Homo sapiens: one gene and its partners. The protein of the gene in region 1 interacts with the protein of each later gene in a biochemical or structural test. Each region holds a gene or a part of one and is shown on either strand. Other genes may lie near its edges.

What was found. The genes of interacting proteins can lie anywhere in the genome.
Region 2: of the proteins of ATF2 (region 1) and PRKCE, one has a biochemical effect on the other in vitro, tested with the Homo sapiens proteins (one study listed by BioGRID).
Region 3: the proteins of ATF2 (region 1) and CCDC6 form a complex in vitro, tested with the Homo sapiens proteins (one study listed by BioGRID).

Annotation. Positions count from the first base shown.
Region 1 is NC_000002.12:175,157,466-175,162,677, forward strand, and holds part of ATF2 (cyclic AMP-dependent transcription factor ATF-2), read right to left. Parts: intron 1-5,212. UniProt on the Homo sapiens protein: Transcriptional activator which regulates the transcription of various genes, including those involved in anti-apoptosis, cell growth, and DNA damage response.
Region 2 is NC_000002.12:46,004,675-46,008,174, forward strand, and holds part of PRKCE (protein kinase C epsilon type), read left to right. Parts: intron 1-2,787; coding exon 2,788-2,987; intron 2,988-3,500.
Region 3 is NC_000010.11:59,812,557-59,816,056, reverse strand, and holds part of CCDC6 (coiled-coil domain-containing protein 6), read left to right. Parts: intron 1-1,301; coding exon 1,302-1,405; intron 1,406-3,261; coding exon 3,262-3,422; intron 3,423-3,500.

The DNA.
Region 1 (5,212 bases):
TCTACAGGAACCCAAGTGGCCATGCTGTGGTGTGGTCAGGCCAGCGACTCTTACCAATTAAACAGCCAATATGTTCACCACTAAGTAGATCCTATTGATTGGTTGATGATTGCTGCTGATGTGGCCCCTTTCCCACAAACATAAAAAAATAAAGGGAAGATCTGGGGCCAACACTGAAGGGGGAGGGGCACGCTAGCACAATGACACTAGACACGACTTTATTCCCTTTCAAACATCTGTTATCATGGGCTGGGCACAGTGGCTCATGCCTGTAATCCCAGCACTTTGGGAGGCCAAGGTGGGTGGATCACGAGATCAGGAGTTTAAGACCAGCCTGGCCAAGATGGTGAAACCCTTTCTCTACTAAAAATACAAAAATTAGCTGAGCGTAGTGGCAGGTGCCTGTAATCCCAGCTACTCAGAAGGCTAACGCAGAGAACTGCTTGAACCCGGGAGGCAGAGGTTGCAGTGAGCCGAGATCGCGCTACTGCACTCCAGGCTGGGTGACAGAGTGAGACTCTGTCTCAAAAAAAAAAAAACACCAATATCTGTCATCATGTAGGCACAGCCAAGGTGAACTGAAGCAGGATACGAACACTCAGTACATTCATGACTATCTTCATACATTCCTGAAATGATCCTAGAGATCACCTTGGGAATAGCAAAGTGGTCATAATAACAAACCTAAATCAAGGAGTTTGAAAACCTGCAGCCACGACCTAGTAGGACTTCACTTGCCTCTCAAGACTAAAGTATTTTGAATTCAGGATTTTTTTTTTTTTTTTTTTTGAGACAGGGTCTTGCTCTGTAAGTACAGTGGCCCAACCATGGCTCACTGCAACCTGGATCTCCTGGGCTCAAGTGATCCTCCCACCTCAACCTCCTCAGTAGGCGGAACCACAGGTACACATGCCACCACACCCAGCTAAATTTTTTTTGGAGTGACCGGTCTCACGATGTTGCCCAGGCTGGTCTTGAATTCCTTGAGCTCAAACTCTTATTTTAAATTATCCAGGGATAATTTTAAAATGGATAACTTAAAATGGATATTTTAAATGGATAATTTAAAATAAGAGTGCCTTAAAGCTTCCTGATCCTACGGCAAGAAGCAAACGTCTGGGGGGAACACTGGAAACTGAGGTCATCTCTACAGGAACCCAAGTGGATATTTTAAATGGATAATTTAAAATAAGAGTGACTTAAAGCCTCCATTAATCAAGGCAATGATCCTCCTGTATTAGCCTCCCAAAGTGCTGGGATTGTAGGTGTGAGCCACTGCCCCTGGCCAGGAAAATTTTAAATTGTATGATTACACTATGATCCTCTACAGTAAAAAAAAAAATACATTTCAGGGCTATCAAAATATATAAAAGTAACATATGTAAAATACACAGAATAGTGCATGACACTAAAATAGTATTTATTAAGTTCATAAATTTTACTGCATTTTACTTTGACTTTAAATGTACATTTTTCTAATGCCTAATAAATACCTAATCTTACTATCTTCTTTATTTTTAAGGCCAGAAACTGAACTACATACTCAGTTTGACTTTTAGATAAGAGTTTTGGCCAGGCATGATAGCTCAACCCTGTAATCCCAGCACTTTGGGAGGCCAAGGTAGGCAGACTGCTTGAGGTCAGGAGTTCAAGACCAGCCTGGTCATCATGGAGAAACCCCGTCTCTACTAAAAATACAAAAAAATCAGCGGGGCGTGGTGGCGGAGACTATAGTTCCAGCTGCTCAAAAGGCTGAGGCATGAGAACTGCTTGAGCCTGGGAGGTGGAGGGTTCAGTGAGCTGAGAACCTACCACTGTACTCCAGCCTGCGCGACAGAGCAAGACTCCGTCTCAAAAAAAAAAAAAAGTTTTATATTAATCTTTAACCCATGATTCTGATGCTATCTGTAAGTTTATTTGATATATAATGTTTAGTTCATCAATTTAGGTAACTCAAATTCATCAGCTGAGAGAAAAATATTAAGCCCAATGTTAACAAGGAAAGCAGCAGTATTTTTTCCCCCACTCACAGCAGACATGAGAGAGGTCCTTCACACAATTCCCAAGAGTATACTAAAATTTTGATGAAATTTCTCAAAGTTGATGGTACACGTAAAAAGTATCACAAACTTCTCCAGACTGTATTATGAGTATGTGAAGAGTGAAATCAGTTCAATATCTCAAAAATATTCAATTAAAATATCAGTAGTCCAATTTTTAAATTAAATATTTTTTAAGTGAGTCTTGATTATTCCTAGGCAATGTAAAGAAAGCAAGTAGTTTTATAGTTTAAAATTATAATAGAATAACAAATACATAAATACAAAAAATTTACAGAGTAATAATTATGAATATAAACAACAGTAGCACAAGTTGTGCTAATAACATCACCTTAGATTTGGTAACAGAATTATGTGGTCTAAGGTCCATAGCATTATTTTTGCCCAAGGTAGGTGATAAAATACCTTTCATTGCTTTTTTTCTCCTGAGAAACTTATTTTTTGTAAAAGCAAAAAGAAAATAGAAATAGAAATTCAGTTCTCCAAGAATTACAGTAATTCATAGTCATCACCATTATGAAAAATACATCAATAAAAATTTCTCATTATGAAGAGGGCACAAATAAAATACACTACCGGCTTGGTGTGGTGGCTCACGCCTGTAACCCCAGCGCTTTGTGAAGCTGAGATGGGAGGATTACTTGAGGCCAAGAATTCAAGACCAACCTGGGTAACATAGTGAGACTCCATCTCTACAAAAAATTAAAAAATTAGCTGGGTATAGTAGCACATGCCTGTAGTCCCAGCTACTCGGGAGGCTGAGGTGGGAGGATTGCTGAAGCCCAGGTGTTTGAGGCAGCAGTGAACTACGACTGCACCACCACACTCCAGCCTGGGTGATAGAGACCCTGTCTCTAAAAATGAAATAAAGTAAGACTATGGATTATGTACTATGCCCATTAAAACAATGATAAGCTCACCTCTTTCTTCCGTTTTCAAAGTATGTCAAAATTCAAGTAAGTAAAGTGTATTACTACAAAAAATATCCCTCGACCCAACATCCATATATCAACAATCATTAAAACCTACCTTACAAATGATAAAATATTTCACTGATTCTCAACTTTGTGGCCAAAAATTGATAGTGTAGTTATAATTGTATAATTAGCAGAGACTTCAAAACAACTTTAGAACTGTGGTATTTTAATCATAATCTCAATCCCACTATGGGGAAGGAGAAATGAAAGGTTTCCCTAGAATGTTTATAATAGGATTGGTGGAGTAGAAGAAAAGAATAGTTGGGGTGGGGAGCAGCCTGTAATCCCAGCACTTTGTGATACTGAGGTGGGAGGATCGCTTGAGCCTGGGAGTTTGAGACCAGCCTGGGCAACGGCAAGACCCCATCTCTACAAAAATTTAAAAACTAGCTGAGTGTGGTGGCATGTGAGTGTGGTCCCAGCTATTTGGGAGGCTTAGGTGGGAAGATCTCTCGAGCCCCAGAGGTGGAAGCCGCAGTGAGACTTAGTCGCATCACTGCACTCCAACCTGCATGACAGAGTAAGACTTTGTCTCAAAAATACAAAGATAATTGGATTTTATGAAAATCACAGTATCATAATTTTATCATCTTAAAATAAGGATATGCTATACTGAAGGAATTTGATACAGAAAATGTCTGAGAAGGGGTACATATGGAACAAAAAAATATGAGACATTCTCTCAAATGAATTTACGAAAATTCTAAGGTGGCATGTTCCTCCACAAATTATAAATTCTTAGGGAAAAATAACTTTGTTGCCAAAGCTACCAAGTAGATGGTTGCTGTACTGCTTTCAAGCTACAGCACAAGCATGCCTGGAGGGCTAGGCTAGATTATTTCTGAATGAACTTCAATAATAATTCCCACAACACAAACTGAGTACTCATTAAGTTCTTGACACTGTATTAAGTATTGTATATATATCACATGAATGCTCACAGCAAGACTATGAGTTAAATTATTCTCCTTAAAGAGAAGGAAACTGAGGCAGAGAGGTTATATAATTTACTCAAGATAACACAGTAAGTGGTAGACCCCTGATAATCTGGCTTCTAATAACTATCCTAAAATATTGATTACACACTTAACTATGTGCCAGGGACAAAACTCAGTCAATTTGGCTATCATATACTCATATACACTTTCTTTATTCCAAGTGTTTCCTACATGGAAATGAATTTGTCATTATAAATCTTAATAAATCATAATGACACATTCATAAGACAGAACTATGAAATGTATAGTTCAGAAAGTAACTCTTTTTTTTTTTTTTTGAGACACCGTCTCGCTCTGTTGCCCAGGATAGAGTGCACTGGCGTGATCTTGGCTCACTGCAACCTCTGCCTCCCAGGTTCGAGCAATTCTCCTGCCTCAGTCTCCCGAGTAGCTGAGATTACAGGCACCCGCCATCATGCCCAGCTAATTTTTGTATTTTTAGTAGAGATGGTGTTTTCTCACATTGGCCAGGCTGGTCTCGAACTCCTGACCTCAGGTGATCCACCTGCCTAGGCCTCCCAAAATGGTGGGATTACAGGCATGAGCCACCATGCCCAGCCCAGAAATTAACTCTTAAACTAGCATTAAAATACTCAGTGTACAAACCACATAAAACTGCATGAAATCTAAGAATTATTGTTACCAGTCTGTCAAAAGTTTTGGTAAACTTTAAAAGAAACAAAGACAGTAAAATGTCAGAAAATATGAAATACACAATATTTGTCACATCACATAGATCACTGGTAGATAAATAACTATAGTATGATATGGCCAACTAAATAATTTTAAAACTGCTAAATAATACAACTTATTCCCAGAAATAATTCCCAATTAGGTAATCACGCTTCATTAATCATAACTCCCAAGTTCACAAAAGTATGGCAAAGCTAACGCATTCATGCTCTGCTGACAGTGTAAACTCGCTCAAGTCTTTGGGGAGGCAAAAATCTGGCAACTGTAGAAACATTTATATCCTTTGACTAGTAATTCATTTGAGATTAGTATCCTATAGAAACAATTCATAAAAGAAAAAATGCACAGAGATGTTCAATTCAATGTCAAAATAGGCATAAACTGAAAACTATTATTTTCCTGTCAGGCATTTAGAACAAATTTAATACTTATTTTTCAACTATCAAGTAACAATCAAATATCATAAAGGTTATACAACATGGAA
Region 2 (3,500 bases), about 130 Mb from region 1:
CTGCCATTGGATGGACCAAGGAGCTCTGAGGCCTCTTTAACCAAGAGTGAGCTTGTTAGCTGAAATAGCTAGCAGCCCTGGTGGGTTTTCACACACCCGTTGCCTGTTGATTTAACAGTTCTTTCATTCTCCAAGACCTTCTTGAGGGCTGGGCACTCCATGGCCATATCTGCCTTAATTTCCTTCCAGGCCAGGGTAAGAGGAGAGCGAGTGTATGATGTTATGGTTATCTGTTTTCCCTTGCCTCTGTCCCTGGTTCCAAGTGTACTGCAGAGAGAAGGGTACAGCTCCCTCTCTTAAAGCTCTTGCCTGGCCCTAGACCTGTCAACACCACTCCCTTGAGTTGAGTTTGACACTCCCTCCCCCATCATCATACCCAAAACCTGAGATCAGCTTGAGTTTGGGGCTGGGTGAGGGAGGATGTCTTCTATCCTGGCCTTTGGGTGGGTGAGGATAGAAAGATGAAGCTAGAGGAGAGACTGAGAAAAGAAGTGGGAAGGAGGCCAGTCCTAGGCCTGTTTCCCCTCTACAGCTCCAGATATCTCCTTCTGTCCGACTGTGCTTCAGACAATAAGTTCTGCAGACATAATTTGCACAATAATAATTCTGCAGCCATCCGAGAATGATGAGGCTGAGGAGGGACTTACACTTGCAAAACCTCCTGCTCTCGTGACCATTATCAGATATGCCTGGTAAGGGACATATGCATCTGCAGAAGAGGAATAACCATCACAGCCTGACAATGGTGCCTTGGTTTTTCTATATCCCTTTTTGTATTCATTATCCTAATTTTATGCCCATACCCACTCTATGTTGGTGCTTCATTACTGTCCCCCAGGTTAGTGAGTGGGAAGTGGGAGGTCAGAGTGTGGAAAAGTTCTGTCCCAAGGTTTGGAGATAAGTCAGTGGTAAGGGCAAGACTGTACCCATGCTGGCTGAGGGACACACTCTCAGAAACCCTGCCATCAAACCTTCCTTGGAGGTCACCACCATGACCCAGACCTTCTTACCCAGGAGTAAATAAAAGAGCTTCGGGGGTCATGCACCAGCCCTGAGGCCACAGAATAATTGGTCTCAGTCCCTCTTCGTGCTACTCCAATTAACTTTCTGTGTCTTTATACTCTACCTCATTCCAAATGAGATTTGAAGCATTCATAAGTAGCCTGATGTACTCTGGGGCTGCAGAACTTGTAGCTATTTTCCCAGACCAGTTTGGGGGTTTTCACGTGTTCCTTTCTGAGGCTGAGATCCCCTTTGGGAGCTTCAGGGAGACAGGGTCATATAGAAAAGAGACCCCAGGTAAGAGTTCAGAGACCAGGGTTTGTAGGCCTGGCTCCTGCCCTGCATGCTCTCTGGCTCTGAGCTCTGCCATTGGATGGATACAGTGGCAGGATACAGCGGCCCCAGGGCCTCTGTTCATCCCACTTGACACAGACGCCAGGATTTCCCAGTAGTGATGTTAGCACAGATGTCCCTCTGAGCGACATTATTACAGAACAGAAATAAGACATAGTTTCTTTTTCTTCCCTTGTAAAGACACATAGAAAAACCTTTTCTTCAAGCTTTGCTGTCCCCAAACAACTATGTTTTGCCTTCCAAAATTCATTTAATAACTGAGGCTTTTAGCTCTATTGTGAGATTAAAAGTTATTTAGTCAAGCTAAGTGATAGGTGGATAACTGCTGAACTGGCAAGGGGAGTGTCTGCAGACTCAGCAGCTTTCCCCGTCTTCACCCTCCCCAACACGTCTCAGAGGAGCCAAACTCCAGATCTAGGAAAGATCTCCGGATTCCTTGAGTAAGCCCTTATGGGACTCTGTCCTTCTGAAAAGAAGCTGAAGATCTCTTTCTGTCACTCATGCCTAATTCTCATTCCCAAGGGTTAATAGGCTATGTTCCCCTTCCATAATCCAAGTTATTCACAAGCATCATTTAAAATCGGATTTTGCTCAAGATGCCCATTTCCACACAGAAGAGTGCGTGTCTTGATGAATGAGTTGCTAACAGTAAAGCTTCTTCAAATAGAAAAGGTCAGAGGATCATCCAGCATTATCTCCCCCAGGTAATTCAGGTCATAAGCTCTAGAGCGGGGCACAAGACTGTCTCGTAGTTGAGAAATTGTACTGAGAAATTCCCGCCCCATTGGAGATAAGTTTGCAACATGTCACTTGGGAAAGCAATTCTTTTGTTAATAATAAGCCCATTGCTCATTTTGTTAGATAACCTTGTGTAAGATGGGTATTTAGAAGAAACCCGGCAACAAGGCTGAGTAAAGGTTTTTAGAAGGTATGAAGGTTTCTACCTTCAGTGATCAGCCACCGTTCTGATGGCTCAGTTGTTGAAATAATTATATCACCAGTGATTACTGTGATGACAGTTCTTGATTCGTTGTTCTCATCTTCAGAGGAAACTTGAAGGATACCTGTGACTCTGCAGAATTCCAGAGAGGGCCCAGATTTGTGTGCTTTACCTAGAACAGTGGAATAGGCTACTAGCCAAAGGGGGCTTTCAGAGAGACAGCCAGGTCCAGTGTAATCTGGAGTTGACAAGGGCAGGGAAGGGACTGTGTCCTCCTCCTCTTTGCATACCTAAGCTCTGCTGCGCATTAGGTGCCAATAAGAGTGTGGTGAACAGATGAAGGAACATACAAAGGGATGTCACACTGGATCTGTTGTGAAGAACCAGAAAGAGGACTGAGAGCTTACAGGGGAAAGTCTGAGTGTTGAGTCCTAATGTAACAGGCTTAAGAGGTATGCACTAATGCAATTTCTTGTTCCCCTTGGCCCTAGAAATAAAAGAACTTGAGAACAACATTCGGAAAGCCTTGTCATTTGACAACCGAGGAGAGGAGCACCGGGCAGCATCGTCTCCTGATGGCCAGCTGATGAGCCCCGGTGAGAATGGCGAAGTCCGGCAAGGCCAGGCCAAGCGCCTGGGCCTGGATGAGTTCAACTTCATCAAGGTGTTGGGCAAAGGCAGCTTTGGCAAGGTCTGTGGCACACACGGGTGGAACTGCTGGTTTTGTTCTACTCCTTAGCATTGTTTCGTCTGTTTGATCTAAGATTGAGAGAGGAACCTTTCAGCCTGATCTCGTTAGGTTTTCTTTCCTTTTTTGTAAGTGCAAATGACCTGAGGCCAAGTAGATAGGAGCGCTGGTTCTGCTATTAATTGGCTATATGAGACTTTCAAGTAGTGATTTAATCTCTTTGGAATTCAATTTTTCTCATTTGTTGAATGGGGACAGGAATCAAGTGAGATGGTAGATGAGAAAGCACTTTGGAAAGTTTTAAATGCTCAGTGTTCCAAATCAATAGTAGTGTCAATACATGTCTTCCCTCCTTCAGAGATCAGCTGAAATTCTGTTTTTAATTTGTTATGAAGACTTTGAGAATGAATCTCTGCCCTCAGCAAACCTAGGGTTTAAAGCAAATTTAGCATGCATTACTTTGGAAGGTAAATGTTATTTAACTGATCTTTCTGGCATGTAATAAATGTTCTGTTT
Region 3 (3,500 bases), on another chromosome or scaffold:
TGTTGGTAGTACTAACCATCTCGGGAGGTTGAGATTGTTGCTTCTTAAGACTAAGCTACGAAGAGTTTCAGAAAGGGGAATGTCATTTGGCTGTAAAAGTAAAACCGCACTTTGGATATTATTTTCTGATGTTTGATTGCTTTAAAAGACTACATTTTATTCATGTTTTTGGTTCTGCCTTATGTATACACACGGGATCTTTGGATGAGGAGCTTGCCTCTGTGACCCACTAAGGAAATGTGGAATCTATTAACATCTTTGTGCAATCAAGAATAATTTGTTGACTCAACCATTGAAAGGTGAATTGCCACTGGTTGAAGAAATAACATGGAAGCAGTAGCATAGGCTCTTTGCATTAAGAAAAAATTTTTAATTATTTAATATGTCAAGTACGGAGAATGATAGAATACATGTCCTCTACTCATTGCTATGAAACCTCTTGCACTTTCAGTCTCTCTTACCAGCCCTCTTTTTCTACATATCTGTTTCATACTGTTTCACAAGTATATAATTGTTTCATTTACTGTCTTGACCCCCACTAAAAGGAAGATCCATGAGGGCAGAAATTCCTGACTCCTTGATTCACTGCTATGCCCCCATTATCCAGTCATTGTTCTCAGTATTTATTACATATTGCTCAATATTGATTAATTGAATTTTCCCATGTTTGCTTCATTGAAATAGAACACTGTTGGGGTTCCCTCCGCAACTGCAAAGCCTCCCCCAAATCAAATTTTCTTCCTTCCCTAAATCCTTAGAGTAACCTAGAGTAACCAGTATTGTGGATTTGGTGTTTATCATATTTTGTGCGTGTTTTTATATCTTAGTACATGTTTATTTATCTCCATTAGCCAGTATGTAGAGTGTTTGGGAGCTTTTAAGAGTTATTTATATGAATAGTAATATAACCTTTCTGACTTACTGTAAGGGACAAGCCCGGAAGAATAACTGTAAGCCCAGAACTGTAAGGGACAAGCCCAGAAAAGTCCTGATATGACTAGTACACCGAACTCCCCTAAAGACCTCTCTAAGGAGGACTTTCCACTTGCCTTGAATAAATGCTGAAACAAGCAATGCATTTCATGTACCAGACAACAATTAAGCATTAACATCCAAGAATGAACCTATCTAGTTTTTTTCAAAGTTTAAGAACTAGATGCACTTAATATGTTTGTGCCAGAAAATTGGCCACATGTTTGCAGTATTCTCCAAGAAAAGGGGTCCTAATTGTTCAATCAAAAAATGTATTAACAAAGTATAAGTGGCCTGACACTTTGGTAACACTTTTTTCCTTCCTTTAGTTGAGACGGGAGAAGATTGACCTTGAAAATACATTGGAACAAGAACAAGAAGCACTAGTTAATCGCCTCTGGAAAAGGATGGATAAGCTTGAAGCTGAAAAGCGGTTTGTTTAGTCTTGCTGTTCAGTATGGGTGTGTGTGTGTGTGTGTGTGTGTTGCTGCTCTGGGTGTGACTGAGGAATAGCAGTAGGACACCTTAATTCTTTGGTGATGCACATCATTTTAATTGGCCAAAGGAAAAAAAATGTTGAAAGCCTTCTGAACTATTCCCATGTTGGGCACCTCTTTATTCTTTGCTATCATACTGTCCCAGTAGAATTTCTTTTCATTTGGTGTTACAAGGCTATGAGAGAATTAGTCATGCTGCTATTGTTCACCTTTAAAGTATTTTCAAGAATGGTTGCAATTTCAACTTTCCACCTTATTGAACTGGCTTCCTCAGTTGTTTTGTAAAGTACATAGGGTATACTGCGTACTATTATTTATACATCTCTGGAATTTACTTCTTTAGGAAGCCTGAGATTTTAATAATAAAATTGTTTTAAAACCTACTGTAAAGAAATACCTTTACATACTTAAGGCTAGGATTCTTTATATAAAATGTATGTACTTGGAAGTGGAATGTCACTCAACAGCAAACATTTCTTAAACCTCTTTGTGCAAGATAGTTAAGCCCTTATTTTCAAGCACTGAGTACTTTGGAGTGTGTGAGGCAGGGCTTGTAAGAATGGGAAGAAGATTCTGTATGTGGAATGTGTGTACGGGTGTAAAAAGTGAGTTTCTTAAAAATGGTCATTAATCTACTTCACCAAGATCTTTTGTTTGCTACCCAGAGCCCTTCCTCCTTAAGTATTTGGTTTGGATGCATATTTGTAATTGTTTTGAGTTCATGTCTACATTTGCAAAATACAGGCATACCACATAGCTTTAAGAAAAGTGAAAATTAGAGCTATATCTATAAGAAATACTTGTTATAATCATATCCACTATGCTTTACTGATAGGTATTATTGTAGCAGTACTAATAAGTTGAATTACGAAAAGTCATTTTATGTAATAAATGCAGGGACCATTATAATATTTAACACACTAGTTTTCTCAAGGGTAGACCTGGATGGAGGTAACTCAGTTTGCTCCTGGACAAACTCAAAGGTACAAAGCAAAAACAAAACAAAAACCCCAGCAGCTATGGAAAGGGATTTAGAGATCTGCTGCCAAAGGAAGACTTTGTAAAAGGCAGTTGGAGGTTTTACATGTATTAGTGCCAAATTATTGGGTTGAACAGTATGGAAGTTTGCATTTTGTAGGTCAGAGCTATTGAATATCAGTATTTTATATCCTTCAACATAAAAATAATTGGTAAAGAAGGTGGCACTACTAATTATTAACCTAACAATTTTGGTTTTGTTTTTAACTTTTTACCTTTGCTGTGGCCAAAAGCAAAGGGCCGCTAGTCCAGTTTGCCATGCCCTTGCAATTAGTTTTGCAGGAGGGAATTTTAGAAGTTGAGTCTCTGTGTTACTTTACCCTCCAAGGAGATTCATAGTAGCTTAGAAGCTTCAATCAAAAGCCGTAAGAAAATGGAATTTCCTCAGCATCTTCATGCACTAAACCCAAGAAGTTGAACATTGAGTCAGCAGGTATTTCTAAGTGCATACTGTATTCCAGGCATAATTATCAGATCCTGTTGTTAAATAAAGACTTTTCAGTATTGTTTAATTTAAAACATTTAATAGTCATTTAAAAGGAAAAAGGGAGATTAGAATCAGCTCTGCCCTTTGAAGTGAGACACCACGTAAGGGCAGAAGTTTGATGTAAAATGGGCAGAGGAATTAAGCAACCCTGTGAATTCTGGCAGTAAACAGGAGTTTGCTTTTAAAACAAACCTGCCAGCTAGTATGTTGTTTTGTCTTTTCAAGGAAAACTGTTAGTCATTGTTGGAATTTTTCTTTTCAATGAAGAATCCTGCAGGAAAAATTAGACCAGCCCGTCTCTGCTCCACCATCGCCTAGAGATATCTCCATGGAGATTGATTCTCCAGAAAATATGATGCGTCACATCAGGTTTTTAAAGAATGAAGTGGAACGGCTGAAGAAGCAACTGAGAGCTGCTCAGTTACAGCGTACGTAGCCTCTGGTTTCACTAGTTTCATGCCTGTAGAATTAATAACTTTACCAAATATAGGGTATTACCAACATTT